Linked DNA regions of Homo sapiens: region 1 is linked to region 2. The links come from fine-mapping of genetic effects on plasma protein levels. Region 2 holds a variant in brackets. A gene starts in the other region. All regions are shown on their reverse strands.

Region 1 (16,018 bases), not on the chromosome of region 2:
AGGAGGGAGGGTGGGGTAGATCTCACTTTGGATACCATTAATATCCCCACTTTGGTTTCTCTTTAAGACAGCTCGGACCTACTGAATGGGAACGTCTCCAGAAGTGGGGCTGGGCGGGCTTATTTCCACAAAGCTCCCTCAGTTGGGAATTCGACTCGCCTTGGAATACTTTCCAGTGTCCCTTCTGGAGAGCACCTTCATCCTGTAAGAGGCAGGGCTTTGCTCAGCACCCCTCAAGCAGTCTCCACTCCATGCTCACTGAACTGAGGACTAAGCTGCCTCTATGGAAGGTGACCCAACAGAGGGCTGAGGAACTCGGCAGGAATGCAGACTGCCGGACAGCCCGCGTTGAAGCTTCAGACAGGCTCATCGTCATGAGCCGGCTCCCTGGGCCCTTTCCCCTTGCCAGCTCTGACATTAGACATTTGCACACACCTGATTTGGATCTCCTGAAACCAGAACTCGGACAAGGCAGTGGAGTTTGGAAGTTGAGAGAGGGATCTGGAGTTGGAAGCCCCTGGTGTGAATTTCCCGTCTGCCTCCCACCAGCTGTGGGAAAGTCACTTTAGTTCTTCGTACCTCAGTTTCCCCCATAGGAGGAGAGTGTGCACCTCTTATGCTTAATGTGGGGATTAGGACTCATGAAATGGTGTCTGGCAGTCATTACCTCTAAGAGCAGCAAGTCTAGAAGTTAGCATGTCCCAGAACCAAACAAAACTCCCACTAAACAAAGTGCATCTTGAATAAAATCCACTGAATTTGATAGACACAGGCCTTAAACAAATTTCTGTTAAAAGAGCTCATCTCCTATTTTAATAATTTGCCCCTGAAAATCCAGTCTTTTATGTTACTGTAATGGAATAGCGTCTGTTCTCCTACTCTCTCTCTTGTCTTCAGGAGCATTCTGTTTTGAGTGAATGCGGGACAAACAGGCAAATTAAGTGGTATTTATATTTTTCTCAGGAACAAATCTCCAACTACTAATAGTGGTGTTCAAACAAGTAACATCAAAGAATGAGAACACCAATGGAGGGAGAAAAGTGATGCTTTGGTGGTGCTCTGAGGGTTTAATTTAAAATAAAGAGAAGAGTCTCTTCGGCAGAGACAGGGCTGACACCTGACTAACAGGACCGGCAGTCAGCAGTCTCCGGAGCAGGCCCGCGTCTCCCGGGCACCCCAGGCAGGCAGGACGGGCCTGCAGGCTCAGCAGAGAAGAAACCTTTCCACCAGTTCCTTCAATGAAAAGCGGAATCCTTTATTATTGGAATCACACTCTACCTTTTCCCTCTTTCCTATATTTGGCAATATTGTAACAATTCCAGATGTCCTCAAAGAGCTCTTAGCATTGGCAAGTAACATCTCCGGAGACTTTAACAATCCTTCTTCCGTCTAGTGATCCCCAAATCTGGCTGCCCAACAGATCACATGAAGAGCATTAAAAAAAATCCCAAGTCCAGGTCTTGCCCCATGCCAATTAAATCAGAATGTCTGGGGGCGGGAGCCAGACACTGGTTTTTGTTTTGATTTTTTTTTTTTTAATCCCAGGTAATTCCAATGTGCAGCAAGGTCTGGGAACCACTGTTCTATGCCTTGCCCCTCCCCCAACGACCGCGCTGGGCACCAAACCCCAACTCCCCAAGCCAATGACATCAACAGCAAGTACGGGCCTGGCTCTTGGAACCCGCGCAGCTCAAGGTTGGAATTGTGCAATTAAACCTTCCAAGGCATGTTTCCCCTGTCAAGTGGGTTTATGGTCGGTAGTCACGAAGCCAGACTCGCTCATGTTCTGTCTGCACACTTGGCACACTTGAACCAGGGACAGCAATCCGGTGTGTGTGTGTGTGTGTGTGTGTGTGTGTGTGTAAGACAGGTTTAATATTTTGGTTGGCTCAAATTCTTCAAACAGCAAAAAGAGACATCCAAGAAAGAAAGTCTCCGGGTTTTGAGGAGAAGTTTGCTGTGAGCCCCATTTTGAAACACCATGGTGTTGGCCAGGATGAGCTCTGCTTCCGGGGCTTCCGCTCAAGAGTCCCGCGATCCCCCCCTGCAGTGGCCGGACAGCCGCGTCCCGCTCCACCGCGAAGCCCAGGCGCGACCGAAGGGCTGCAGGTGGAGCAGACCCGGACGTCTCCGCGAGGCGGCCATCGAAGGAGAGCCTGGGGCTTTCGGCGCGGGCGCCCAGGAGGGAGCTGGGGTCCCCGGGAGGTGGGGGGCACTCTTGGATAGGCAAGACGAGGGCGCACCGGGCGAGGCGAGCGGCCGGGGTCTGCGCCCAAGGGGCGGGTCGGACCCCACCTGCCTTTTGCCAACGAGGAAACTAACCGCCGCCAGCACCACCCCTCCCCGGGAGCCGCAGGTGGTGGTAGACGAGTTCTCCCAGCTCCCAGGTCGAGGCTGCGACTCCACACTGGGGAACGAGGATCGCGGGGACCTGGAGAGGGGCCGGGGCCAGGCTGGCGGGCGCCGGCTTCAGTTTGAGACCTGCGCGGAGGGCGGAGGCGGGGAGGTCCTCTCAGAAAGCCGCCTGTCCCGCGGGGTCCGAGGGGAGGCTGTATTTTTGGGTTCCTTCCTCAGCTTCCCTAAACAGTGCAGTCTCGGCGGGTGGGCAGCGCCCGCCCCTCGGGTGCGCGCCAGGACCCCGTCGCGCCCTGGGAAGACAGCGCGGGGCGCACGTGCGGGACCCCGGCCCCAGGCGCCCACCAGCACCCGGCTTTCGCCCACTGACGCCGATCCTGCGCAGCTGGGCGGGGAAAGTGAGGGAAGAAAGTTGGGAGCGGTTCGGGGCGCCGGAGGTCCCGGCGGCCGTTCCCCGCCTGGCCTGCAGCCCGGTGTCCCACGCGTCTCCTCCTCCGCCCGCCCCAGACTCTCCCGGCCGAAGAACGAAACGTCCCGTTCCTCCCGCGGTCCCGGTCGGCGGCGCAGCTGATCTCAAGGAAACAGGAAAGGACGGGCGGGGGCGCGGGCGCCGAGCCGGTGCGCCGGTGCGCGGTTGGGCGGGCTGCGGGGTCCGGGGCGCGATCCGGGGGCGGCGCGGGAGCCGGCGAGACACGCCCTTACCTTTCTTTTCCTCCAGAGCCCGACTCGCCGGGCAGAGCGCAGCCAGCAGCGCCAGGAGCGCTGCCCCGGCCGTCCCGGAGGGTCGCATCGCTGCTCCCCGAAGAGCTCGCTCCGGCTCTCCCGATCAATACTGGACGGAGTCAGGGGGCCGTGCGCGGTGGTTGTGGCGTTGGCGGCGAGGCGGGGACTCGGGCGGACGCCGACGAGGTGGCCTGTCGTCCGGTCTGGGCGGCGGCGGCCGCCGGGGCTAGCTCGGGACTCCGGCCGCCTCGGCCGCGTCGGGCGCTCACACCGTGCGGGGGGCGGAGGCTGCTGCGGCCGCGCTGCGCCGGGGGCTGCCCGGACGTCTAGCTCGCGCGGGCCGAGGCGCGGGGAGGCAGGGCGGGAGGAGGAGGGACCAGGCGGCGGAGGAGGGATCGGGAGGAGCAGAGGAGGAGGAGAATGCGAGGAGGAGGGAGGAGAACCAGCAGCGGGGACCCAAGGCCAGCGGCCGCCGGAGGCGGTGGACAGCGGTGGCCCCCGCGGGACCTAGTCTCCGGCGGGAGTGGGGCGGCGCATGGGAGGGGAGCGGGTGCCCTGAGGAGTTAATTTCCGAGAGGGGCGTTCCCAGCACTGCCCCTCTGGACCCGGTCCCCGCGGACTTGCAGGCCCAGCCTATGTCCAGGTCGAGCCAAATCTGTGCCAGGGTCCCCTTCCCCCTTTCCCTTCTTTTGTTTTACAAAGCAAACTTGTACCAGCTTTAGACAGACTGGCCGAGCCTTAGAGCCAGCGTCGGATAATGGCACCGACGGGGAAACTGCTCCTTTATTCGGGTCCCCACCTCCCCTGCAGCACTACGGGACCCTCTCGGGGATCAGAGGCTGGCCTGGCAGCTGAGGAGGTCGCCGTGCCCGCGCGGCAGGGGTGCCAGGCGTCCGAGGTGGTGCTCTAAAGTCCGAGGGTCCTTCAGATCTTGTCAAGCACCCTCGAAATCATCTGAAATGAGGGCACCCAACTCCGGGTGCAGAGACAGGCCTCCTTAATGTTTATTGCAACCAGCCATGGGTACTTTGAAGCCAATGTGTGAAGCACATTACTTCGCAAAAGTGAAGCTCTTGGAATAAAGGCTTGACACAAACAGCCGTGGAGGTGCTTTTAGAGAGGCTAAGTGTCCCACTGCCCCTGTAGCTCCCGCAGGAGAAATGCCAGGGAAACTCGCGGAAGCTTTGGCCAAAAGAAACTGAGCTTTTTTGGGCTGCAGGAACTTGAGCTATATTCCTTTGGCAAGTCCACCCCATCCCCACTGTTCCTTCTCCTGCAGTAAAAATGTCCTCTAGGTCCATGTTACAGCCAGACCCCTCCTCTCTTCACGAGATTCACTAGGACCTTCAGGCCTGGTTCAACAACCCTGATCTCTCGGCTCTGTCAAAAATCACAATCCTGAAGTAAGTGAAGCTACAGACCTGCCCTTTGCTGTCTCTGAAGGGGAGCAACCTTACATCTTTCCTCCTCATCCAGCAAAATGTTTGTGCCTGGGTCTCGCACCCTGCAGCCTGAACGGTGGGGTTTTTCACCAGGGCAAGCGCAGACAGACACAGGTCTGCTCACTGCCCGCACAACCTGGAACTTCCCTGTGAATTAGGAGAAGTAATCTGTTCCTTTGTTTTAACAAATCAGTACAGCCACTGTGCGTTGAAGTCATGCCCTGAATGCAGAGGCCATGAAGGCTCTGCAGGCATGTGTGTGCTTCCTGCACACCTGGGCTGAGAGCAGTCCGTAGAAACACAGAAAACAAAACTAGAGAAAGGCAAATGGGAAGCACAACAGTGGAACATAAAATGAAGACAGGAGTGAGTCTTACAATAAAAGACCTGAATACAATAAAGTCCTGTGCATTCACTTAACAAGGGCTGCAAATTTGGTTTTAAACTATATTTTCTGTCAAGGGAATGTGACCTGTGTGTACAAGTCACAACACAAATCAATTTAAGCTACAACTGATTTGTAAGACTGTACAGGAATTTCTTTGAGTGCCCAAAAAGACAGCATGTAAGAACATCAGTTCTCACTACGTTAGGACTATATGAGACAACAGCCTTCATAGTACGGCTTGTATATTCTTCAATGTGATCTGATAGCATCACAAGAAACAGAGCTTTTTGTAAAGAATTACTAGACACACACATAGCACAATACTGGGATGGATTCCAGGGAACAGAGAAGAATGGGTTTGCTGAACATCTTCATGGGACATCTATGTAAAGTTTGAGTTTCTCCTTTGAGCTTTTGATACAAAAGCTGACATTCACGTTGATTTTGTAGTCCTTGGCTAGTACCTGGAGTGTGCTGATAACTGTGTTACTTGGTAAGTAAAAAACTGTATGGCCGAGCAGGCACTAATGAAGTCCTCTTAAGAGAGATAAGTAGCCTGGCATAGTTAGGGCCCTGCACAGTTAGGGCTCTAGCTCACAGCCTCTGTGGAGGGTGGTCCTAGACCATGGCCCGGACAGAGGCTGGGTGTGTGTGCCACCACCACAGGAATGACAATAGTGGCCCAGTTGCTGTGTTAAGCATTGGTCAGACTAAGCTTATCTGATAACCTGTGAGCTGGTTAATACTTGTATCTGCCTTTTATAGCAATGTGATGCTGTGGCCGGGAGAAGTGACCAGGATACCAAGGTATACTTGCTAGTATGAGAGGCCAACTTTGAATCCAAGGCAGAGCCGTGTTTTACCCCTCTTGTCCAGCAACGCTTCAAAACCTGAGACAAATGGTGATGTCAGGACCTAAAATTCTATTTCATAATGTCTTGGAAATTTGTTAGGGTGAGTAATACCAAAATTTCTGCTTGGCCAAAAAAATTATAGATAAAGCCTTCATGTATGCTATATTAGCAAGTATGTACTAAGACTCTAGTATTTCCCTTAATAAATCTCATAAGCGTCTGTCAATTTTAATAACACAGATGGTTCCATCCCTTTGCCAGCTGTACATGAGAAACTTTTTTCCTCTGATGAGTGGTTATCCTCTTAGAAGAAGTTTCTGAGTATGTTGAATAAGAGTTTAGTCTTGTCTATAAGGAATGTGGCTCTGAATTTCCTAAAACCAAATGCTCTGTGAAAGGGGAGGAGAAACACGTTATTTGGCAGGGTGAAGATCTGAGGTCTTCAAATATTCTAAGTTCCATCTTAGGCAAAAGGCATTTGACCACCTGTTTTCTCTGGCTTAGAGGTCAAAGTAAAGATTGATTAGGAAAAAAAAACATAGTGGCAGATTTTAGACTTTCAAAAATATGTTTTATAAGTTATTGGAGCTAAGTAAAAGTAGAATAAGCTATGTCAGAGTGGAAAGGGCTTTTTTGAGAAAGATTTTTGTGCAAGAACAATAAGTACTAATGGAGGTTGTGAATTAAGGACTGACACAGGTTCCTTCCAACCCTAAAGTTCCTTAAGAAAATGCACTTCTAAAATAGGTTTTCACTTAAACATGTGTTCACTTGACAGCTCTTCTAAGGATATATGTTAAGGAGATACAAGAATCTGGTAACAGCTTTGCCTCTAGGGAGGAGAACTAGGTAGCTCGGGGTCAGGGGTTTAGAGGGAGACTTGTTTTTCAATTTGTCCTTCTGTACCATTGGGATTTTGTACCAGGAGCATGCCTCACCTATTTCTGCAAGGTAAGTGTGGCCCCTGCTGAGGTTCAGGGACACTCCTGGGGGCAGGCTTTCATGGTTTCTGAGACTGTTTATTCCTTCTCCTTGAAGGAAGTCATTTGCCTTGAGCTCTGAGTTGAGACCCATCTCTTGCAGAATGTGGAAGAAGCAGCTTTTTCAAGGGGTAATGTGCTGACAGAAAACTGCTGAAGCATTTCTCCTTTGTCATTAGTATGCTTCATCATCTCTAGAGTTGAGGGTTACATGTCACTATAGGAGGCACTATTGGCGCTCCATTCTAGCAACAAGTAGAAAGCTGAGCAAACCGAAAAATTAACACCTCTTCTTAGCTCTTTCAGAGAATTGAGGTCATTGGGCAAACCACTGCCCCCCAAATTGGAGAGACAGGCAAACACAGAAGCACAACCTCCAGAGGAAGAAACCAGCAGACAGAAACCTCCAAGGACCCAGTGCCGGCTGGGAAAGTTTGCCCTGTAATTGAGAAATTGCGGGAGGCTCAGTGTGGGCAGTTCTGCAAATTAAGAACTCCAGCAGAGCCCAGTCATGGTGCAGGGTAGTATGAGACACTTGAGAGTGTTACCTCCTGGAGCTCTGCTAGGTCCTTACCACGAATATTAGGGGGAAAATCTCATTATGCTTCTGGCAGTGGAAGGAGAAGAGGAACCATTTTGAAATAGGTTGGAACATTCTATTATTAATAGAAGGTCTGCCCTCAGGAGAAATTATTTCACCAGAGGCCTAACCTGGTGTTTTATCAGAGGGTGACCTACCCAGAGCAAGGGAAATATACAACTCCACCCCCCTCCAACAGTTCTGTACCATCTAAGGGGCTGGGGAAGCTGAGAAGCAAGCATGAAGTTCACAGTCCAGGGACACAGGCTCACTGGAAGACTGTGACATGCGGCAGGACTGTGCAACACTCCCTCTCCCCACAGCTTGTCACTACGTCACTAGAAGCCTCTTTACTACAGCTCCTCTTACCCAGTATATCATTTCCACATTGCAAGGCACACTAAAAGGCAAAGACGCAGTTTGAAGAGACTGCACAAGCATCAGAACCAGAATGAGACATGACACGAACGTTACAACTAACTGCTGTGGTTTGAATGTGTCCCCGAAAAGTCCATATATTGGAAACTTAACCCGCTGTCCTCATGAATGAATTCACATGGCTCTCATGGCGGTGGGTTAATTCTTGTGGGAGTGGCTATGTTATAAGAGTAAGCTCTCTTCACACGTGATGCCCTCTCCCATGTTATGATGAAGCAAGAAGACACTCATCAGATGCTAGCACCAAGCTCTTGGACTCCCCAGCCTCTAAATCAGCCTAAATCAGCTTCTTTTGTTTATAAATCACCCAGTTTGTGGCATTCTGTTATAACCACAGTAATTGGACTAAGACATTATCACATCGGAGTATTAATTATAAAAAAACTATGATTAATAGGCTAGGAGTTTTAATGGAAAAAATAGGCAACATGTAAGATCAGATGGATAATGTAAGCAGAGCCATGGAATTTTTCTTTTTTTTGAGACAGGGTCTGGCTCTGTTGCCCAATCCAGAGTGCAGTGGCGTGACCTTGGCTCACTGCAACCTCAACTTCCCAGGCTCAGGTGATCCTCCCACCTTAGCCTCCTGAGTAGCTCTGACTACAGGCATGCATCACCATACCTGGCTAATGTTTTGTAGAGATAGAGTTTCACTATGTTGCCCAGGCTAGTCTTGAATTCCTGAGAGATGAAAGTTTTAAGAAAGAATTTAAAAATTCTAGAGATCAAAAACACTGTAAAAGAAATGTAGAATACTTTTGAAGTACACATTAGTGGGCTGAACATGCTTGAGGAAAGAATTTCTGAGATTGAAGATACGTAAACAGAAACTGCCAAAACTGAAAAACAGAAAGAAAAACGACTAACAAAAAGAACAAAACAAAACTTTCAAGAACTGTGAGATAATTACATGTAATGGGAATACTGTAAGTCAAAGAAAGAGAAAAAGGAGCAGAAGCAATATTTAAAGCAATAATACCAAAAATTCCTCCAAATTAATGTCAGACAACAAATCACAGATTCTGGAAGTTCAGAGAACATCAGGAAGATATATGCCAAGAAAACCCAAACAAACAAATGATACCTAGGCATAACATATTCACACTTCAGAAAATCAAAGGTTAACGAAAAATTCTTAAATGAAGCCAAAGGGAAAAAACACCTTACCTGTAGAGGAGCCATAAAGAAAATACCTATAGAGAATATTAGAATTACATCCAACGTATCCTCAGAAACCATGCAAGCAAGAAGAGAATGGAGTGATCTGGTGTATGTCTTCATCTTTTTGGGCTTCTGTAACAAAATAACATAAAATGATTTACTTGTAAACAACAGAAATTTATTTCCCATAGTTCTGGAGGCTGGGAAATTCAAGATCAAGGTATTTGCAGATTTGATGTCTAATAAGGGCCCACTTCTTCATAGATGGCCATAATTTCACAGTGCCCTCACATGGCAGAAGGACCAAGGCAGCTCTCTGTGGTCTCTTTTATAGCACTAACCCCATTTGTAAGGCCTCCACCCTCATGACATAATCCCCTCCCAAAAACACTCTCCCCTGATAACATCATTTTGGGAGCTTACATTTCATCATATACATTTTGAGGAGACATAAACATTCAGTCCATTGCAGTATATTTAGACCACTAACATTTAAGGTAATTATTGACATAGTTGGATTAATAGCTACCATATTTATTACTATTTTCTATTTGCTGCCCTTGCTCTTCTTTTCTTCCTTTCTTTTTATTTATTTGCTTGTTTATTTTAGAGGCAGGGTCTAACTGTCTTCTAGGCAGGAGTGAAGTGACATGATCACAGCCCACTGCAGCCTCAAATTTCTAGGCTCCGGTGATCTTCTCATCTCAGCCTCCTGAGTAGCTGGGACTACAGGCACAGTCCTAGCTAATGCCTGGACTTTTTAAAATTATGTTTGTATAGATAGTGCCTTGCTATGTTGCTCAGGCTGGTCTCAAACTCCTGGCTTGAAGTGATCCTCTCCCCTTGGCCTCCCAAAATGTTGGGAGAAAAAAATCTAGGGCAACTGATTTTAAAAAGTTAAAGACTAAAATAATTGCTATGCTAAAAAGAGGAAATCGAATTATACAAAATGCTGTGTAAAATCCACAGAGGCAGAAAAAGTGTGGAAAACAAAAATAGAAAAAATGAGCAAGAGTGTGGTGGCTCACGCCTATAATCCCAGCAAGAAAATCAGCAAAACCAAAAAGTGATTCTTCAAAAAATCAATAAAATTTATAAGCCTCTCACCAGGCTAAGAAACAAAGAGAGAATACACAAATTATGAATATCAGAAATGAAAGAAGGAACATCACTACTGATCTCATGAACATTGAAAGGATAATAAATGAATATTATGAACAGCTATACCCACGAATTTAACAACCTACATGAAATGAACCAATTCCTTGAAATAGAATGTACCAAAAGTCATACAAGAAGAAATTGCCAATCAATATAGGCCTATATCCACTATAGAAATTGAATAAATAATTAATAACCTTCCAAAACAGAAAGCACCAAGCCCAGATGAGATCAGTGCTGATTTTCGTCAAACATTTAAGAAAGAAATTACATCCATTCTCTACAATCTCTTCCAGAAACTAGAAGTAGAGGGAAGACTCCATAATTAATTTTGTGAAGCCAGAATTACCTTAATAGCAAAACCAGACAGAGATATTACAAGAAAGGAAAGAAAACTGTAGACCGATATCTTTTATGAACATAGATGTAAAAATTCTCAAGAAAATATTACAAAATCAAATGCAACAAAGTGTAACAAAGTTATACATGATGACCAACTCCGATTTATTCCAGATATGCAAGACTGGTTCAACATTTGAAAACTCAATTAATGTAGTTCATCACATCAACAGATCATATCAATAGATAAAGAAAAATTACATGATCATATCAATAGATACAGAAGAAAACATTAGGCAAAATCCTACACCTATTCATGATAAAAATTCTCAGCAAACTAAGAATAGAGAAGGATATCCTCAACTTAATAAAGAACAGCTACAAAAACCTATAGCTAAAATCAGGAACAAAGCAAGGATGTTTCCTTTCACCAATGCTTTTCAACATTGTATTAGAAGTCCTAGCTAATGCAATAACACACAATAAATAAATAAAATGAATACTGATTGGGAGGGAAGAAATAAATCGTGTTTGTTCACTGATAATGTAATTGTCTCTTAGAAAATCCAAAAGAAACAATAAAAAAGCTCCTGGAACTAATAAGCAGTTATAGCAAGTGAGCAGGATACAACGTTAACATACAAAAGCCAATCACTTTCCTATATACCAGCAAAGAACTAAGGGAATTTGAAATTAAAAACACATTACCATTTACATTAACACCCTGAAATGGAATACTGAGGTATGAATATAAGAAAATATGTATAAGATCTATAAGAAAAAAACAAAAAAACTCTGGTGAAAGATATCAAATAACTAAATAAATGGATCAATAGTTTGTGTTCATGGTCAGAAAGACTCCATAATGTCAAAATGTCACTTATTCCCAACTTGATTTATAGATTAATCCCAGTCAAAGTTCGAGCAAGTTATTTTGTAAATATTGACTAATTGATTCTATGGGCAAGCAAAAGACCCACAATAGCCAACTCAATATTGGAGAACAAAATTGGAGGATCAACACTACCTGACTTCAAGACATATACAACTACAGTAGTCTAGACTATGTGGTATTGGTGAAAGAATAGACAAATATATCAATGGACCAGAGAGATCAGAAACTGACGCACATAAATTTAGTCAATTGATCTTTGACAAAAAAGAAACACAATACAATAGAGCAAGTATAGTCTTTTCAACAAATATTGCTGGAACAAATGGACATCCACATGCAAAAAATGAATGTAGATACAAACCTTACACACTTCATAAAAATTAACTCAAAACTGATCATACATATAAATGTAAAATGCAAAACTATAAAACACCTAGGAGATAACGTAGGAGAAAACCTAGATGACCTTAGGTATGACAATGACTTTTTAAGTACAAAACCAAAGGCACAATCCATGAAATAAATAATTTATAAGCTGGAGTTTATTAAAATTAAAAACTTCTGCTCTGAGAAGGACAATGCCAGGAGAAGAAGACAAGCCATATACTGGAGAAAAATTTGCAAAAGAAATATGTGATAAAGGATTGTTATCCAAAATATGCAAAGAACTAAACTCTTAAAAGTTAATAATAAGAGGATAAATAACCTGATTTAAAAATGGGCCAAAGCCCTACACAAACACCTCATCAGAGGATACACTGATGGCAAGTAAGCATATAAAAAGATGTTCAACATCATATGTCATTAGGAAATTGCAAATTAAAACAACAGTGAGATACCACTACACATCTGTTACAATGGAAAAAATTCAGATCAGTGACAACACCAAATTCTGATGAGGATGTGGAACAATAGGAAGTCTCATTCATTGCTGATGGGAAGGCACAATGGTACAGCCACTTAGGAATGCAGCTTAGCAGTTTCCTATAAAAGTGTACATACTCTTACCATATGATCCAATGATTTCTCTCCTTGATACTTACCCAAATGAGTTGAACACTGTTGTCCACATAAATCTGCTCATGAATATTTATAACAGCTTTATTCATAACTTCCCTAACTTAGAATCAACTAAGATGTCTTCATGTGGATGAGTGGATAAATAAACCATGGTACATGTGGACAATGGATTGTTATTCTGTGCTAAAAAGAAATATGCTATCAAGCCATGAACTGACATGGAGGACACTTATGTGCATGTTGCTAAGTGAAAGAAGCCAATCTGAAAAGGCTACATACTTTATGATTCCTGCTGCAGTCATGTGCCACGTAATGACATTTCAGTCAACAATGGCACCCATATACAATAGTGGTTTCATAAGATTATAATACCATAATTTTACTGTACTTTTTCTATGTTTAAATACACAAATATTTACCACTATGTTATAATTGCCTACAGTATTCAGTACAGTAACATGTCAGATAGGTCTGTAGCCTAGGAAAAATAGACTATACCATATAACTTAGATGTATAGTAGGCTATATCATTTTGGCTTGTGTAAGTTCACTCTGTTATGACCATACAATGACAAATTCACCTAATGACACACATCTCAGATCATATTTTCATTGTTAAGTGATGCATGACTATATATGACATTCTGGAAAAGGCAAATCTATGGAGACGGTAAGGTGATCAGTGGCTGCCAGTGGTTGGCGGGAAGGAGAGATGAATAGGCAGAACATAGAGGATTTTTAGGGCTGATAAACTATTCTATACCATATTTCAGTGGTGGATACCTGTCATTTTACATTTGTAAAAACCCATTGAATGTACAACACCAAGAGGGAACCCTAACATAAACTATGGACTTTGGGTGATAATGATGTGTCAATGTTGGTAATCAGTCGTAAAAAGACACCACTTTTGGGGGGATGCTATGTATGTGTGTGCACAGGGGTATACAAAAACTCTCTATATTTTTAGCACAACTTTTTTGTGAACCTAAAACTGCTCTAAAAATAAAGTTTATGAATTAACAACAACAATAAAAAAACATGACTGCATGTTTGAATGCTAGTTTCAGCATCGTTGAGATGTTTGTTAATTACTTTGCAGAGGGATCTTATAGAAGGTTTCTGTATCCTTCACAATGCTTCCCCCCTAGTGACAATTTTACAAATGAGCTTAAATAATTTTGTTCAAGGTATTGTAGCTTGTTTCAGGGACAGATGTTACTAGAAACACTAGCCTGGAGATTGTAACTGGTGGTCTGAAAACCAAGTTCAGGGTACAGATGTAGTTTTGTGAAGTCCATTCAATGTTCCTTTTAGTTTAATTAATGGCAACACTTAAAAATCAGAAGGTTTTACATTTAAACTGTAGACTTTGTGTTTCTCTCGGAAAATGGGAATTGTTGGCTAACTGTGTTTGCTTTCATGGAAGATGGCAGGTGGCTAAATGGTAACTGTCCTCTTTAGGAGGTACATTTGATCTCCAGTTCACGCTGGAGCTGCCATCCTGATTCTCTTGTTCATGGGTCTGTGAGGTCACTGTAGGCATTAGAGTTTGTAACTCATCCCCCGTGGTTAAATCATGATAGTGCCACTTTATAGGTATGCTTCCTATCTCTGCTTTTCCCCTCTCCTTATCTTTCTTTCTTCATTCGTCTCTCTCTCTCATCTCATATATGTGTACATATGTTTTTGTTAACAGGTTTTTGTCCAGATGCCATAATACATTATATATCATGATAGACATCTCTTTAAATTGCCTATTTCAAATATGGAGTAATATTCAAGCACAAATGTTTATCACAGCTCATGATTATCCTTATAGGCAGACTTTCTAAAAACCAGTTAAACATTTCTGGAAGCAAATTCAGTTCTGTTGCAGAACAGAGAAAAAAGGATCTATCCATTAATTTATGGTACATGTGGAATGACCATGTTCCATGAGTTGAACATGAGTTGGCTTTGCAGGTAATCACGGGTAGGAGATGGAGGTTTAGGAAGGTGGCTGGAGTCAACTTCACTGCCAATCCTACAAAGCAGCAAGTTTTGTCTGGCTAATTTGTCTATAAACTGTAATAAGTGAGAATGAGTGCTTATTAGGACACAACTAAAGAGACATTTTGAAGCATTTTAGCTATGTCTGATTTCATTATTTTAATTATTGTAATTATGTCTCATCTTATGTAATAAAGGTCCTGGAGCAAAGACCTATTCTCAAGCTTATATTCTTCCAAGGAGAAACTCAAGGCAGGTCACCAACTGAGAAAATTGTGTCACTTTATTTATTTTTTTTCACAAGGAATATAAACAGAGGGAATGAAGCTTCCACATGTACTATAGAAGGAAATAAATCGCTTTTGAGAGGAGGTCTCCAGAAGCTAGATTTCAAGTGGCATTTTTAGATGGCAGAAAATCTGGAGGGTCTGCAAGGTCAAAAATATGTAGGCTAAAAATGACAGGGCTAGAGAAATCCAAAGCAAATTGGTGTTCTATTTCTGCAATTGAATGGAAAATTAGAGTTTCTAGGGCCCCTCCAAAAAATCAGCAGAAATTCTTGCAGTTGTTACTTTTAAGGGACTGAGCTTACAAAGCCTCAGTCATTGAAACAAACCTGGGAGGGACCTCACAGATAGTTCTTCGCCATTTTTTAGATGACAAGGTAAGCACCTTGTCCAAATTACTTGTTTCACAAAGAGACAAAGGATTAATAAATAATATTTTATTAATAAAATAAAACACATAGGAGTTTTCAGGGTTGTTGGCTATTTGATTAAAATTCAGAGTTGGAGTAAATGGCATTTACTCAACACTCATTTATCAAGAGCCAGAGGTGGCAGGATATATGGGGTCACTCACTAGTTCCTGCCTTTGCAGAACTTACAGTCAATCTACAAAAGGTCACCTAAGCTAACCAGGGATGTGTGTGTGTGTGTGTGTGTGTGTGTATGTGTAAGACGAAAAGTCTTTCTACTCTTCCATAATCAATAATTTCACTGGTTTCTCAACACCATAAAAAATAGGATGTTTTGCTATCCACAGTTAAAATAAATGTCAAACACAACTAGTTAGTGGTGACACAAGCATTGGAATCCTCAGTGCCTGCATTTAGGGCAATTGCTGTGTCACTGGAGATTAGGGAGTTGTTCTGACATTGTAGCATTTAGTTTTGTCACCTGCTAAGATCATTTGGCAGGTGTGCGCTGCCTTTCCTTCTTAGTAATCTCACCGAGGCCAGTTAATTGTAGCCTAAAGGAGAAGCGTAGACTGCTTCTGTGATCAGAAGCATCTGTTTTTTCTCCCCATTGGTGGATGGTTCTTGGCGGTCCTTGGAAGTCCGCCATAGGCTTGCATAACCTGCTGATGGTAGGACTCCTGTCACTCTGGGGCAGAGGCTCCCTGAACCAGGCCACGCCTCCCCAGGTCACTTCCTCCTCCCTCTTGTTGGCCAGCGACCTCCTCCTCAGCCTGGGAACAGAGGGAGGGGAGCAGCCCCTTGGGCCGGACTCGTAGGTGGCATTCTAACGATGGGTGTGTAGAGAGAGAAACACCCCCTCATTAGGCTCACGGGAGGTGCAGGTTGTTTGTCACTCATCATATCACAGCACACCTTAATGTATACAAGAAGGTAGTCAACCCCTTGTTAAATATTTAAACGGTATATTTTATATATGCTTAAGATTAAATT
Region 2 (11,197 bases):
AGTTTGAGACCAGCCTGGGCAACATGGTGAAAGCCCATCTCTCCAAAAAAACCAACACAAAAATGAGTTGGCATTGCAGCACGTGCACCTGTAGTCCTAACTACTTGGGAGCCTGAGGAAGTCAAGGCTGCAGTAAGCCATGATCAGCCATTGAACGCCAGCCCAGGCAACAGAATGACTCTGTCTCAAAAAATAAATAAATAAATAAATAAATAAATAAAATAAAGGCCCTATATGACAAGCACACAGTTAACATTGTACTTAATGGTGAAAAGTTGACAACTTTTCCTTTAAGGCCAGGGATGAGAAAAGGATGCCCACTCTGGTCACTTCTATTTAACACAGTACTGACAGTCCTAGCCAGAGCAATCAGGCTCTAGGAATCCCACTTTTAAGTATTCAAGAGAAATACTTGCTCCCTGCTACATATTTCCTGCTAAAACGTTTATAATGGGGAAAAACTAGAAACAACCTAAATGCCCACCAGCTGGAGACTAGTGAAAGAATCTGGCCCATCTATAGGCTGGAAGACTGCATCAGGGGGAAAGAGTGAGGAAGACCCACCCCACCACCTCTGGGAGAGCTCCAGGGCTATTCACTAAGCGAAAAAGCAAACGGCAGAACAAGACACCCTAGACAATCCCATTTACATGAACATACATAAAACCAAACTACTAATGTTTATGTGTACACAAACATTTTGTAAATGGTGGGCAAGAAAGGTCTGGCAGAAGCAAACTCATCCTGAAACAGTGGGTACCTCTGGGGAGGAATCAGAATTGGGATGTGGGGATGGTGGGGAAGTAACCAAGAAGCCTGTTACTGCTTATCTCTAGCAAGGATGGCTAAGAACACAGATTCTGGAATGTGGGTTCAAATCCCAGCACCAGCCACGCGCGGTGGCTCATGCCTGTAATCCCAGCACTCTGGGAGGCCGAGGCAGGTGGATTACTTGAGGTCAGGAGTTAGAGACCAGCCTGGCCAACGTGGTGAAACCCCATCTCTACTAAAAATACAAAAATTAGCCGGCTGTGGTGGCGGGCGCCTGTAGTCCCAGCTACTTGGGAGGCTGGGGCAGGAGAAATGCTTGAATCCAGGAGGTGGAGGTTGCAGTGAGCTGAGATGGTGCCACTGCACTCCAGCCTGGGTGATAGAGCAAGACCCCGTCTCAAAACAAAAAACAAAAAAACAAAAAAAAAACCAGCAACAACTTATTAGTTATGGGACCTTAAGTGACTTACATGATTACTCTCTACCTCAGTTTCTCCATCTGTAAGAGGGGAACCATGATCATGCCTACTTCATAGGCATATTATGAGCATGAATTGATAGCTGTAAAGCCCTAGAACGTAGAAAATGCTTCATAAAGACTGGCTGACATTGTTGTTATTTCCATGTTGCGGTGAGAGTATATTATTGGTGTCTAAAAAATAAACATAGGGCCGGGCACGGTGGCTCACGCCTGTAATCCCAGCACTTTGGGAGGCCGAGGCAGGCAGATCACGAGGTCAGGAGATCAAGACTATCCTGGCTAACACGGTGAAACCCCATCTCTAGTAAAAATACAAAAAAATTAGCGGGGGGTGGTGGCAGGCACCTGTAGTCCCAGCTACTGGGGAGGCTGAGGCAGGAGAATGGCATGAACCCGGGAGGCGGAGCTTGCAGTGAGCCGAGATCACGCCACTGGACTCCAGCCTGGGCAACAGAGCGAGACTCCGTCTCTAAATAAATAAATAAATAAATAAATACATAAATAAATGGGCCGGGGGCAGCTGCTCATACCTGTAATCCCAGCACTCTGGGAGGCTTAGGTGGGTGGATCACCTGAGGTCAGGAATTCGAAACCAGCCTGGCCAACATGGTGAAACCTCGCCTCTACTAAAAATACAAAAATTAGCTGGGTGTGGTGGTGTGTGCCTGTAATGCCAGCTACTCGGGAGGGTGAGGCAGGAGAATCACTTGAACCTGGGAGGCAGAGGTTGCAACGAGCTGAGATCATGCCACTGCATTCCAGCCTGGGTGACAGAGCGAGACTCTGTCCTGGAAAAAAAAAAAAAAAAAATCACACACACAAAAACAAAAACAAAAATAAATATAAAACAAAAAATAAAAAGGAATAAATTAACAAAAGTCACGGGGGTCCAGAGGGATTTCCTGCACTGACAGGGGACCCTCAGGACTAGCAGACCTTTGCCTGCCCATCTCAACTGGGGCATCCTTCTCCTCCCATGGCCAGAGGGCCTTTCCTTAGGCACAACATCACCAGAATGGCACTGAGACCCCCCACCCCTCTGCTGTCCACGGTGCAGAACAGTTGGGACCTCTGTGGGCACCATCCTTCCTTCCTCCTGACCCTCGCTGGGCCTGGGCCCCTGCTGGAGACCACATATCCATGTCGCTCTTCAAGATGGAGAAGAAATGCTCTCCCTACTCAGGCACAAAACTGGGCCCCAGATCCCTGATATCAGCACACCCTGAATGAACAGCAGTGCCACTCCAGTGACTCCCTCCCTGGGCAGGGGTAGTGGCTGCACAACACAAGCTACAGAGCCACAGGGGCCTGGGTACATTTGCTGCCTCCAATCACGCCCTCCTTCATCCTCTCTTCAGGTGTTACTGAGGGCCTACTGTGTGCCAGACACCAGGCTAGGCCCTGAGATACCACGGTGAACAGCACAGACGAACACTGCTCTCCCAGGGCTCACATTACAAAGGGGGACACGTATTGGCTGTGTGGCTCCTGATGCCTGACTCAACCTCTCTGAACCTGGATTTCCTCATCTGCCAACCAGGTGGCAGCATGGCATCCACCTTGTAAGGAACCCATGAAAGGGAATGCAAGGTGGAGATGCGAACCTACAAATGGGGTTCTCTCTGCCACACACCCCTCCACAGGCACCGTCTCTGCATGTGGCCATGTCCCGCTGGGCATGTCTGCAGGGCAGTGGCAACAAAGGGTGCCCCTGTCACATGAGGCCATGGTGGAACCCCCACAGCCGATCTCCACAAGAAACCCCAAAAAGCACAAGTAGGTGCCTCTGCCCTCGATGGAAGGGGGCCATGCAGAGTCGACAATGTTTTTTTTTTTTTTTGAGACAGGGTCTTGTTCTGTCACCCAGGCTGGAGTGCAGTGGCATAATCATGGCTCACCGCAGCCTAGACCTCCCAGGCTCAAGCTATCCTCATCTTGGCCTCCCAAAGTGCTAAGACTACAGGCACACACCACGACACCTGGTTAATTTTTGTATTTTTTGTAGAGATGGGGTCTCACTATGTTGCCTAGGCTGGTCTCAAACTCCTGGGCTCAAGCAGCCCTCCCACCTTGGCCTCCCAAAGTGCTGGGATTACAGGCATGAGCCACCGTGCCCTGCTACAGTCGACAGTTTTGTACATCACAGGGTCCTTGGGACCCGCACACAGTAGGTACTTTGCACACAGTAAGTAGTCACTAAAAGCTGTCAGGCAGATGGGAAGGGAGAGGGAGGGGCCACATCTGCCCTTGGCCACCATGTTCTTCCTGTCCCTGAAGGGGGGAGGGTCTAACCCCTGCATAAGGGCACCTGTTCTTGGTCAATCCTACTGTTCCCCACACCCAGCCTTGACACAGGTGAGACAGGCGCTGCCCTCGTGGCTTGGAGGATGCCCAGAGAGCTGTGATTCCAGACCCAGGCTCCTGCCCCACCTACACGATCTGCCGCTAGTCACGCCAGCTGCCTGTGGGTGTTGGCATGAGCCATTCCCTCTGCCCTGTCTGCTTCCAATTGCACATAAGAGAAGCCTCTTCTGAGCTCCCAACTGAACTTGACCTTCAGCACACTGGTCACACATTATCACTTGACAGGATGCTTTTATTAGTGACTATCTCTCCAACAGACTGAGTTCCATGAGTCATTCCCTGCTTCATCTCCAGCTCCTAGCATACAGCAGGAGCTCAATGAATGCCTCTTGAATGAATGAACATATGAATGCAAGAGATCAGTTGGATTTGCAAACTCTTGCTCTCCCGGCAGATGCGTGGCAACCAGCATGAACCAACCTCCCCCGCCCCCTGGGCCGTCCTACCTTCCGCACAGTCCTGTATGTCAGAGTCTTGAAGCCCAACTGCAGGGCCAAACCCTGGCAGGAGCCTTCCTCAAAACAGCTGCGCCCACTCCAGGTCCCTCACTGCCCAGGCAACGGCTGGGAACCCCCCTCATTGGGCCCCTTCCACCAGTCCTCCCATAAGAACAATGGCATTTACTGAGCGTCTGCTACACATCAGACATTTTTCTTTCTCTTTTTAGAGACAGGGTCTCACTCTGTCTTCCAGGCTGGAGTGCAGTGGCACAATCATAGCTCACTGCTGCCTCGAACTCCTGGGCTCAAGAGATCCTCCTGCCTCAGCCTCCAGAGTAGCTGTAACTACAGGCTCATGGCACCATGCCAAGATCATATCAGGCATTTTTCTAACTACTTTTACAAAATATTACCTCTTCCAAGGTTCCTAACAGCCCTAGGAGGTAGGTCCAACGATTACTTCCATTTTACAGATGGGGAAGCTGAAACAGAGCGGCCCCATAGCTAGTGATTATAGAGACCCCCACACAGAAGGGACCCCCAAAATGTCTGATCAGTGCCTAAATGCACACAAGAAGGGCTCACTTCCCAATGAATGCTTATTGGATGAATGAGTGAGTCCCAGAGGAGAGAATATAAAAGTCTCATTCAGCTCCAGCTGGAGTCAGGAGTCGGCAGTAGCTCTGTCCAGGTCCCAAACCCACCAATGATCAGGAAAACTGTCACAGGGCAAAAGGAAGAAAACAAAAATGAGAGGCTGGGCTCAGTGGCTCACACCTATAATCTCAATACCTCGGGAGGCCAAGGCGGGAGGATTGCTTGAGCCCCAGAGTTCGAGACCAAGCTGGGCAACATGATGAAACCCTATGTCTACTATAAATACAAAAAAATTAGCCTGGCATGGTGGCTGGGCCTGTAGTCCCAGCTACTCAGGAGGCTGAGGCGGGAAGACTGCTTGAGCCCAGGAGGTCGAGGCTGCAGTGAGCTGTGATCACACCACTGCACTCCAGCCTGAGTGACAGAAGCAGACCATATCTCTATAAGAAAAAAAGAACTGATGTCTGCAGTGTGCTTGGCATGGGGCTCATAAGTGGCTGCTGCTATTTTCTTACTATCACTGTTAGAAAAGAGCTCCAGCCTCGGAGTCAGGCTCGCCCGCCATGGGAAGCCACAGGGGGGCCTGCCTCATGGGCTGGGCTCGGGGCGTCATGGGGAGCTGGAACAAAAGATCTTCTCAGGGGAGAGGCGGCTGCTCAGGCTGCTCCGGGCAGGAAGTTGCCAGCCCAGAGCAGTCAGCTGTAGCCCAAGCTATGGAAGGGACTGTACCAGGGAGGTTTTTTGGCCAGGAGGGCAGCCAGGCCACAGGAAGGTGGATCCCTCCCTGACCCTGGCCCAGGCAGTGGCGTTTATTGAGTGCTTACTATGTGCCAGGCTCAGAGAAAAAGCAATTGATCAGATGGTGACAACCCTGGGATCAGGGGCTGACAAGCTGTGGACAGGAAGCAATGATGATCACGCCAGGGGGACCTGGGGCCCTCAGGCTTCGACTGTAGGGTATGAGTTGGGGGCAGGGTGTCTTTGGGACACTTCTATCCCAGCACAGAGCTTCGGGGGAGCCTGGTCAGCCAGAGAAATAAACCACCTTCCCCACAGAGGGGCCCTAGCACCCAGGAGACCCCCCTCACCTGCTCAGGCTTCCTTCTGGGGCAGGAACCTCCCAGCTATGGGGGTCTCCAGGGTTTCCCCAAATCCTGCAGCCAGGTGAGGGGCAGGATGATGTGCAGAAGGAATAACTCAGCCTGGTGCATCCTTGTCCCCCACCCCCAATTCCCTCCCTGCAGCAAATACATGAAGGCAGCTAGCTGCACGCCCACCAGCTGGGGCTGGGGGGTGTCTGCATCTCAGGACCCCAAGCTCAGAACACAACCGGGTCCACCAAAGGGCTATTGAGGGCCTCGAAGCAGCAGTGGTACCTGGTGCTCCCCAAGAAGCACAGCCAGCCCCAGGCACCCTGGAGCCACCAAGTCGGTGAGAAATCGCAGGACCTTGAATCGCTGGGAACCTGGCTGAGCTGTGGGGTCCCCTTAATCCATGCCCCGCTGAGATCAGGGCTTCTCAGCCTCTCCTCTATCTAATCACCCTGGATAATAGTATAATTCGGGAGGCTGAAATTTTCCTTTTAATGATCAGGCCCACATGCAGAGAAAGCCTTTATCCATGGTAGGAATTCCCCTGCTGAGGCTTGGGGAGGATTTTTTTTTTTTTTTCTTTCTTTGAGACAGGTCTGACTGTCACCCAGGCTGGAGTGTAGTGGCATGATCACAGCTCACTGCAACCATGACCTTGTGGGTTTAAGCAGTCCTTCCAAGTATCTGGGACCACAGCCATGTGCCACCATACCCAGTTTTTTTTTTTTTTTTTTGGTAGAGACAGGGTCTCACTATGCTGCCCAGGCTGGTTTCAAACTCCTGGGCTCAAGTGATCCTCCCACCTTGACCTTCCAAAGTGCTGGGATTACAAGTGTGAACCACTGCTCCCAGCCTGGGGAAGATTTCTTAAAGTGTGGTAAATGAAGTTAAATTGGGCCAGTCCAGAGCCTCCACTCTCCCCTGCCCCAGCTCACAGATATAGGCAGGAAGTCTCACACCTTCAGAGGGGACACTTCCTCCAGGGAGGCCTCCTGGTTGAATCTAGGCCACAAGGAACATTTCTATCTTCCCCATGCCTAGCACCAACTGTTCATAGAGTCCAGACCCTGTGGCCTAAGGAGGCCCAGAGAGTTGTGGGATTCTGACACACACTGCCTGGCAGGCGGCCTGCTGCCCTTTCACAGCATTCAAGTTGCCAGACGCAGAGATGCCCACGGGAAGCAGGGGGCGAAGGCAGGGTCCCTGGGGAGGCAGAGAGGTGGGTTCTACCCCAGGCCACGGGGCAGCTGGCTGGACACTGATGCACCCTTGCTGGGGTCACCTTGTGCCCCGGGGACATTTATCAGGCCAGCACAGTCTGCCAGAACAGGAAATGTCCTCTGGCTTCCTCTGCCCACACCGCCAGCCTGACATCCCAGCCACCGCCCCAGCTAGGTTTCAGGAGGTAGGGAAAGCCAAGAACCATCTCCCTGCGGAGAGGCAGCACCATCAGAATCCCGCACGCCCCCCATCCCAAGGCCGTGGCTTCTTCCTTTCACTGCCTCTGGGTTGAGGGCAGACAGGGGAGACCCTAGGAGGGCAGCCTGTGGGTGAACCTCCTCCCCACGTGCTACTTGGGGACATCAGGAGGGACATGCGTAAGCCCTCAATTACCTCGCCTCTCGCAGCATACACTGCCCTCTCTGGGCCTCTCCTCCTTGAGATGACACCAGTGTGTGAGCTCTGAAAGGGCAGATCCCATGTCAGAGGTCCCCTTGTGTGTCCACCTCCCTGATTGATCACATTCCCAGTCTCCCAGCTGGGGCCCCCCATTGGGCGCCTGTGAGTCAGCCCCTGTGAGGAGGGCATAGACTTCCTTCCTCCCAGGCCTCCCTGGGGACACATGTCCTGGGCAGCAGCCGGCTCCCCACTGGCCAGCCGGGGGGTAGCCACATCCGGGTGGGCCCCCAGGGGCTCCAGGCCTGGCTCACAAGGAAGCCTGTGGCCCGGCCCTGCTGGCCGACCCCTGACAGGGTGGCGTGGGAGGAAAAATCTTCTATCTAACTGCTCAGCTGCCGGGTTTCCGGCTGGGGCGGGGAGTGGGGGGGCACCAGGAGGACCTGTTCCCCTGGGGAAGTGTCCTCTGCCCCTGCTGGGAGGAAGGATGGCTAGTGGTGGCCAGCAGAACCCTGGAGCCCTGGTAGAGGGATGCTTGTCACCCCGGCAGCAGGGCCCCATTGAGCAGATGTCCAGTGGTGGCCTGGTCCTGCTGCCAGGCCTCAGGACCTGCTCAGTCTCCAAGGGATCTCAAGCCCCGGGAAGCTGGGGAGGTGGGGTGCAGGACTCCTGGGTCCAATAAGGCCTGACTCAGCAAGTGACCCCGGCTGAGTCACTTCCCCTGGGCAGCCTGCCCGCCTCAGTTTCCTTGGGAAGGGTGGGTAGTGAGGAATGGGGCCTTGCAGGGAATGAGCAGCTAGCACTGCACCTCTGGACTCGCCGAGGCAGGCGTCTCCGGTCTGCCAGACGGCAGCGGCTTCCTGCCCTGCCTCGTCAAAGATGCTGAACGCCCGCGGGCCCTTGGGGACCGTTTTCCCAGGAAACCTGGCAATTAAGTGCCAGCCCCTATTGGGCATGAACAGCAATGGCTTGCACTTATTGAGTGCCAATTGCATGCCGGGCACTGTGCATGCCTCCTTTTCTCAAAACCACCCTAACAGGGAGTTGGCAACCCCCCTATTTCATAGACAAAAAGACCTGTGGCTCAGAGAGGCTAAGGGACCAGCCCAAGATCACACAGCCAGAGCAAGTACAGCCAACACAGTTCCAGTCCTGACACTGTACTTCACACACCCAACCCTGGGGAGGCTGGAACTCTTGGCTTCCATCGGGCAGGCGAGGTCCAGATCAGAGAAGCCAGGTAACCTGCCTAGGACCTCACACCTGGAAGCTGGCAGAGCCCAGATTTGGCCCCAAAGTCCATACTGCTACCAGGGAGAAGTGGGAATTTAGCAGGAAAAGCCTCTTGTTTTATTAATAGCAATAATATCTACTATTGTTAATTGAGTGCCAGGCTCAGCGCTCAGTGCCTTATGTGCCATGTCACAGCAAGTGCACAGCTGTTAAAGCCTTTCACAGATGTTGTCTCAATTGCCTCAGAGAGCTTAAGTGATCAACCCAAGGATCCCCAGCAATGGGAGACCCTCATGAACACCAGCCCTCAGAAGGGTGTGGGGTCATGTAAACTGGGTCCCAAAGGTGTTTCCAGCAAAAGGAGCTGTATTGGCCCAGACTGTGGGACAGCTCCCTACTATGTCCCTGAGACCCCCTTCACTGACCCTCCCCACCTTGGCTGGGGAGGGCACCCGGTCTCCCCTCACCACAGACAGGTGGCACTGAGACTGGCAGCGAGGAGGTCCCTCCAAGTGCCTCCAGCTCTGCTCCACCTGGGATATGGAGAATGTCTGGGGGTGGCACAGCGGGAGCCAGAAATCCAAGGGCCCAGCAGTCCTGTGGGATCTGATTTGTACTCAAAAGTTCTATTTATCGGAGAAGGAGGATCAGGCCCAGGTTTGAGAGGCATGGGGGTGGGGGTGGGGGGATGAGGAAAGAAAGCCAGCAGAGCTAACACCCACAACAAAAAAGATCATTCCGGCCCCAAGGCTACTTCTTCTCTTCCTCCTGACCAAGCCACTCTGGACACTGTGAATTCACTCATTCATGGTTCCCATGACTCTAGGAAGTAGGTACTATTAGCACACCCATTTCACAGATGAGGAAACTGAGGTGGGGCAGTTAAGCAAGGCCTTATAGCTAAGGAAGTGCCCAGATCTTCAAAATTCTGCTCCCAAAGACCCAGGAAATTCCAGTGCTATGTATGCAAGAGATGCTCAAGGGAGACTACTGAAGGAACACCTCATAGCCAATAACAGTAACACTAATGAAGGCAATGATAAAATCACCACTACCACCACCACCACCTGCAACTGAACCTCTCTTTGCCAGGCAGCAGGTGCTCATTACACACTGGCTCATTAAATCTCCACTGCAAACCTGTTACTCCCCCATTTTACACAGAGGGAAACTGAGGGCAGAGTCACTTGCCCACGCCTTCAGCTGAACGAAGGCAATAGGAGTAGCAAAGCACAGTCTCCAGGACCCTCCTCACTATCCTCCTCCACTTCCTGCTGAGCCCCTGCAGACCCTGAGCCCCCAGCTGCTGATGCTCTGAGCCAGCCCCTTCCCAGCTGGCCGCTCTGTGGCCCACAGGGACTCACAAAAGTTCTAGGAATGCTCACCCTTTGGCTCAGAAGGATTTTCCCTCCCAGAGGGGGTAGTGGGAAAAGGCTCAGGAAAAGTGCACTAAAAACCCTTCCAACTTCCCCCAGTAGGCCCTGGCTCTCATCCTCCGAGCCCAGCCTGCCCAGGTGGCCTCTGACGGCTCTCCCTCCACGAGGGCAGGTCCCGAGGAGCCTCCAGAGCTGTTTCCACTCAGGCAGCCAGGTCAGTGATGGGAAACCCAGACACAACCTGCGCCTGCATCCCTGGAGACCCACAGGCCCACTGCCCTGGCAGGGGCCCTGAGGCCTGGCTGCTAGCCGGTGTTAGGGAACTGTCATCTCCCCGGCGAGGGGCTGCGGGTCAGATCTCGGTCCCTCCTGCCACCAAAGCTGGCCTTGCCGACATTGCCTTGCCGGGGCCTCTGCTCTGAACCCCCCACCAGATTTCACTTCCTCCCACTCAGCCCAGCCTGGCCGTGCCCCTCCCTGGAGGCCCCCAGCTGCAGGCAGTGACCTCCTCACCTACATCATTGTGGCTGGGAATGGGGAAGAGAAACAGGAGAATGAG[G/A]AAACTAAAGAAAAAAAGAAGCGGGACAGGCAGGCAGACCCTCCTCTCCAGTTCCTCAAATGCAGTCCCCCTCCCTCAAAACAAAGCTCCCCTGGCCGGAGGGAGGGAAGGGAGGGAAGGGGATTTCTGCACCAGGCATCAGAGACCTCTGAAATACCATCCCTACCGTGCGGATCTAGAAGACCAACACCCACTCCAGACGTTTTTTGGTCGGGGGATTCCCAGGGAACCCCAGGCAAGAGGTGTGAGAGGATCAATACCAGAAACCTGTCTCTGGGACGCCTAGCCCTGGTGAACCGCCCAATTCAGCAGCATGCGGGGGCCTGGCCCGGTCGACCTCGGCAGTGCAGGAACTGGGGAGAGGGGCTTCCTGAATCAGGGCGCTACCCTCTTAGCCACATGGCCCGGAATGGGGAGTGGGGAGGGGCCGGCGCATCCTCCCCCGCTGCCCCCACACCCAAGGGCTCATCTGTGCTCACAGCCTCAGTTTGACTACTTTCACTTTCAGGGTAGCAATGGGTGACCCCTGACCGCTCCTCCCCAGGCACAAGTTGAGGGGAGGGCCGCCCCCAACCGGCGAGGCTACCGTAGGGTGGGCTGGGGGCGTCAGCGATGCCCTCTCCCCCATCCCACGGCCTCAGTTACCCCAACGCTCTCCCTAACACGTG

Direction of the effects. Positions count from the first base shown, and alleles are read on the strand shown. Strength reflects both the effect of a copy and how common the allele is.
As copies of G replace A in region 2, the plasma level of the protein whose gene starts at base 3,406 in region 1 goes up (weak association).

The links. PIP is the chance, under the fine-mapping model, that this variant and not a neighbour inherited with it causes the effect. Protein levels are from antibody-based Olink assays in UK Biobank. Linkage for the fine-mapping came from a reference panel and not from the study's own genotypes, which makes the PIPs less certain.
Region 1: it holds the start of EGFR, and the variant in region 2 is fine-mapped to the plasma level of the EGFR protein (UK Biobank, PIP 0.95).

Annotation. Positions count from the first base shown.
Region 1 is chr7:55,006,405-55,022,422 of GRCh38, reverse strand. EGFR (epidermal growth factor receptor) reads right to left here and starts at 3,406. Exons shown (of 28, transcript NM_005228.5): 1 at 3,058-3,406. The coding sequence starts at 3,145. LOC105375284 (a long non-coding RNA gene) reads left to right here and starts at 3,501. Exons shown (of 4, transcript XR_007060329.1): 1 at 3,501-5,862. RefSeq lists an enhancer at 1,732-2,406.
Region 2 is chr12:111,406,485-111,417,681 of GRCh38, reverse strand. The region is part of intron 1 of SH2B3 (SH2B adaptor protein 3); the gene reads right to left. Among named protein-coding and RNA genes, the nearest start is that of SH2B3, 6.2 kb to the right of the region's middle. RefSeq lists enhancers at 1-15, 3,636-4,483 and a silencer at 7,576-7,725. The variant G/A (reference allele first, on the strand shown) is at 10,530.